2 separate regions of the Homo sapiens genome follow, and region 2 is linked to region 1. A link means that fine-mapping ties the variant in region 1 to the expression of a gene that starts in the linked region. Tissue or cell type: hypothalamus. Region 1 holds a variant in brackets; the other region holds the start of a gene. All regions are shown on one strand. Distances are from middle to middle.

Region 1 (2,768 bases):
ACAGAACCCATCCATTTTGCAATCTATAGAATTCAGTATAAAGTCACATGTCCAAGTTTATTCCTACTTTAATTTTCATAATTGCACAGCAACCTATCTTGTTTAAAAATGGAAGTAAAATATAAAAATAAATCAAATGCTGGCCATAAAAATAGGTTGACCTTGAGGCCAGGGTTGAGTGGTTTACATTAAAGATAAACTCTTGACTGACAAGGATGGTCCATTTACTACAACCTGCTCCTTATACAATACTTTCTGAGGCAGAATTATTTTTTGCCTTAAAACAGTAGAGTAATGCCTAAAATTGTATGGTTCTACATTTCAATTGCTGTGGGATAGAAAGTATTATATACAAAAGAGATACTGGGGGTTGAGTAAGGAGATTGGGAAGATAATAGATTCCCTAGAAATGCCACTCTTTAGGAAGTTTCTTGCAAATCTCTTCCTTTCAGGAAATATTTTCTATATAATTTATTCACTCTTTCACCAAAAAATGTTGAAACGCAGTAATGTAAATATATTAAACACTTGGTATATATTGGTCAGTAACAGCAACAACCACCAGAACTGGCTCCTGCCCACAGGGTGTTTACAGTTTAGACAAGGCACAGAGAGACGTTGCTGAAGTAAACACTAAAACAAATCTAACGGTTGTCTGCAATAACAGCAGTTTTCTTATTGTTCTGTAACAACTCGGTGTAAAAATGTGGCATCAGCAAAGTTTACATTTATTGCACTTTGTTCCCATTTTCTTCCTCCATACACACACACACACACACACACACACACACACACACACACACTCACTCACTTTAGGAGCCCAGCCTCACAGGCGTATCTGAGCCCCCAGAAGGGATCATGCAGTATCAATATTCTAGTCCTCTATGGTTCTTCCCTCCCATACCTGACCTAGCAATGACTCTTCAAGGAGCTTACTAAAGAGACAGCAATATGTGCAGAGAAATATCTCTGTGCAGAAGAATGTTTTGATGTAATTAAAAATAGTGATGATATAGCTAAGAATGACAGGTATAGTTTAAAAGAGGATTGAGTAAAGAAATTATCATTAATTCCTGAGGTGCAATACTAATCAATGGCAAAAAATGACATGTACATACACACACACACAAACTACAAAGGAAAGATATCTATAATATTGAGTTCACAAAGCGGGTTTGAGAATAGCTTGTATAAAAGGATCTCACTATGTAACATTGTATTCATATGTGTTATGTGTTTATACATAACAGGTATTTCCATTATATAGAAGTATATATACACATATATTACAAATTACATATACACATGTAAGTTGTATGCCTCCTCCAGGAG[A/G]ACTTTTTAATTCAAAGGAAATTTTTTATTTTCTTCCATAAGTTATTGTGGTACAGTTTGGTTACATAAGTTCTTTAGTGGTGATTTGTGAGATTTTGGTGCACCCATCACCCAAGCAGTATACGCTGCACCATATTTGTAGTCTTATCCCTTGTCCCCCTTCCACTCTTCACCCCAAGTCCCCAAAGTCCATTGTATCATTCTTATGCCTTCGTGTCCTCATAGCTTAGCTCCCACATATCAGTGAGAACATACGACGTTTGGTTTCCAATTCCTGAGTTACTTCACTTAGACTAATAGTCTCCAGTGTCATCCAGGTCACTGCAAATGCTGTTAATTCATTCCTTTTTATAGCTGAGTAGTATTTCATCATATATATATATATGTGATGGATATATCTATCCATGGATATATCCATGGATAGATATATCCATCACATATATATATATATATCATATATATATTCCATCATATATATGATCGATATATATCATATATATACTATATATATGGGTGATATATATGGTTGATATATATATCATATATATATGATACACACACACACACACACACACACACACACACACATACACACACACACCACAGTTTCTTCATCCACTCACTGATTGATGGGCATTTGGGTTGGTTCCATGATTTTGCAATTGCAAATTGTGCTGCTATAAACGTGTGTGCAAGTATCTTTTTCGTATAATGACTTCTTTTCCTGTGGGTAGATACCTAGTAGTGGGATTGCTGGACCAAATGGTAGTTCTACTTTTAGTTCTTTAAGGAATCTCCACACTGTTTTCCATAGTGGTTGTACTAGTTTACCTTCCCACAAGCAGTGTAGAAGTGTTCCCTGTTCACCGCCTCCAAGCCAACATTTATTGTTTTTTCATTTTTTGATTATGGCCATTCTTGCAGAAGGACTTGCCTCTATGCATATACACATCCTGTGTCCCACTTATCATCGCGGCTCATCAGGGAACTGAAATTGAGGAAAATAATAATAGCTTAATCCACCTTGGCCAGGTAGCATATTTGTACTATAGCTCAAAGCTTCGAAGCCCAAGTGGTGTGGATCTTTGAGGCAGATCAATAAAAGACAGATTTTGAGACAGAAAAGTCTTTCTGAAACTCTTGGATTATTTCCTATAAATGACCAAATATAAGGCCATACACAGCTCACAGGAGACTCTTAAAACTGAATGGTGAGATCTTGCAAAATTATCTTCTTTTGGCTGCACAAAGCAATTGCCTATACTTGAATGGTGGTAAGCAATGCTTGGGACAATGAATTTGAGAGTCCTTTTTAATAGAATGAACTACTGCAGGTAATTTTCAGGCAACAACTCAAATTCTTATCTAAAAAACTAATTTTTAGCTTTTCTTTTCCTGTTGATGCCTTTTCAGGCAGGTGGAGGATTTTCTTAAGC
Region 2 (2,500 bases), 910 kb after region 1:
AATCACTGCTTGCCATAATACGTTTCATAAAGGAATTTATATAGTAGGCAAAGCAATTATTGGCAATACTTTGATATAATTACAAGTTGTTATTTGTTATTGACTTTTGCAATAGCTCTTATTATAATTCTTAAACATTTTAATGCTATTTCATAAAAGCCACAGATTAAGTCATAATTTTGATGATACATACTTAAATGATACCCTCTTTAGAATAGTCACGGTAACACTTGTTTATATGTTCCCTGAGAACAATATAAAATAATTTTGATGTGCAGCTATAGTGTGTTTATCAAGTAAGGTTTATCTATGTGTGGAATTTTACTGAATGGTACTCTGAAGCTCTGAAATACCTTTGAGGGTGAATGAGGTGCAAAGGGGAATAGTTAGTCTAACCGATGGTATAAAGGCCAGCCAGCACAAAGGCTAAACTAAATATTTCCATATTTTTTTTCTAGATTAAGAAGGACATATTGATAGATGGAAATATGGATGACTGGATAGATAAAGAGGAAGAATATTAAGGAAAGTCAAGGTGGAGGAGGGAAGTTTACATATCACAGCACTATCTTTTATAACAATGCAAACTTTCTGAGTTTGAGAACAATAATAACTAGCTAAAATTATAGCTTTGTGAGAAATTATTGCGATAAAAAGTTGCTTTATTGCTTAAGTTTTGAGATTGGGTGTATAGGCTAGTGAATAAACTATTCTTAGCAAACTATCTTTCCAGCCCACACAAATATTTTATTTTCTCTTAGGAGTATACGATGGATGTTTTTTTCCGCCAGACCTGGACTGATGAGAGGTTGAAGTTTGGGGGGCCAACTGAGATTCTGAGTCTGAATAATTTGATGGTCAGTAAAATCTGGACGCCTGACACCTTTTTCAGAAATGGTAAAAAGTCCATTGCTCACAACATGACAACTCCTAATAAACTCTTCAGAATAATGCAGAATGGAACCATTTTATACACCATGAGGTGAGGTTTCTCCAATTCTATTTCCCCTGCCTAAATGATATGTCCATAATACTAACTCAGAACCGTTGATTTCAATGTTTCTAGGCTTACCATCAATGCTGACTGTCCCATGAGGCTGGTTAACTTTCCTATGGATGGGCATGCTTGTCCACTCAAGTTTGGGAGCTGTAAGTTACAACAGGCTTCTGAGAGTCAAATAATACATCCAAAATATATAATTACTTGGTTTTAGTTGATACTGGAAATCAAGGAAGAAATAGAATCATGACACTATCAGTGTGATTCTAGGAATATACTTAATCATTCTGTCAATCTCATAAATTGAGGCTTTAGTCACCAAGATTAAAGAAAACATTAAATACAATCTATGTTTGTATTTCCTTTTTTATAGACAATGTGCACTTTGAAGGAAAAAAAGACAACTCGTCAAATTCACTGCTATATTTAATTTGTTTCAAATATTTAGATGCTTATCCCAAAAGTGAAATCATATATACGTGGAAAAAAGGACCACTTTACTCAGTAGAAGTCCCAGAAGAATCTTCAAGCCTTCTCCAGTATGATCTGATTGGACAAACAGTATCTAGTGAGACAATTAAATCTAACACAGGTAAGAATTTGACCAAAGGATGGAAATAATCCCTCAGGATGACTCCAGTGCACATTTTCAAAATATCTATTTCTTTTTCCTTCGCCTTAGCCATTCTCAGCTAAGCATGCTGTTTTGCAGTGATGAGTAGCTTTCCTTAAAACTGATTTTGCAACCAGGTGCATATAAAGATTTGTGTAATCTTGGAATAAGTAGTTTTTTTTATGTATATGATATAAAGAACCCTACTGAAAACAATAAGTTGATGTGTCTCTTCGCTCTATCATCTGCTGATCAAGTAGCTTTCTCATATACTGAAATGTACCTTTGCTTGTTTTCTTCCAGTCAATGTTAATTTAAAAGTTGTCAAGATTTATATTCAACTGCATTCTTTTTGCAGACTGTCAGCAGTAATAATACTGATGTATGTGTCTTCCAACAGGTGAATACGTTATAATGACAGTTTACTTCCACTTGCAAAGGAAGATGGGCTACTTCATGATACAGATATACACTCCTTGCATTATGACAGTCATTCTTTCCCAGGTGTCTTTCTGGATTAATAAGGAGTCCGTCCCAGCAAGAACTGTTTTTGGTATATGTCACATTTTGTACTTCACGTACATTCATCCTCCACCTTTCATTGCTTGTGTATTTTGAGTAAATATTTACACTGGTGCACTTTTTCAATCCACAAAGAAAATAGGTTCCTGTCTCATCCAGACATATGTATCATGCAAAATCACTGTCATTATATCACAAATTGTGTGATGAATCAAAAAAAATTTTGTCTCAGTGAGAATTATGGCTGGTTTCCTATGACTTTCATGTGTCCTATTTGCAGTGCTTTATCTTGATTTTCTTTGTCATAACTGAGGAAAAGCAGAAAGTTAAAAACTGCATGTAAATCCATGAAAGCAAAAGATTAA

Direction of the effects. Alleles are on the strand shown, and positions count from the first base shown. SD is a standard deviation of normalised expression in the study named.
For the expression in hypothalamus of the gene that starts at base 1,223 in region 2, allele A in region 1 goes with a lower level than allele G (small effect, 0.32 SD a copy in GTEx).

Evidence for each region. PIP is the estimated chance that this variant, and not a neighbour inherited with it, causes the effect.
Region 2: GABRA6-AS1 starts here. The variant in region 1 is fine-mapped to the expression of GABRA6-AS1 in hypothalamus (GTEx, PIP 0.93).

The regions. Positions count from the first base shown.
Region 1 is chr5:160,781,678-160,784,445 of GRCh38, forward strand. The region is part of intron 2 of ATP10B (ATPase phospholipid transporting 10B (putative)); the gene reads right to left. Among named protein-coding and RNA genes, the nearest start is that of ATP10B, 69 kb to the right of the region's middle. The variant A/G (reference allele first, on the strand shown) is at 1,333.
Region 2 is chr5:161,688,188-161,690,687 of GRCh38, forward strand. GABRA6-AS1 (GABRA6 antisense RNA 1) reads right to left here and starts at 1,223. Exons shown (of 2, transcript NR_189170.1): 1 at 1,073-1,223. It overlaps GABRA6 (gamma-aminobutyric acid type A receptor subunit alpha6), which reads left to right. Exons shown (of 9, transcript NM_000811.3): 4 at 762-982; 5 at 1,067-1,149; 6 at 1,449-1,592; 7 at 2,014-2,166.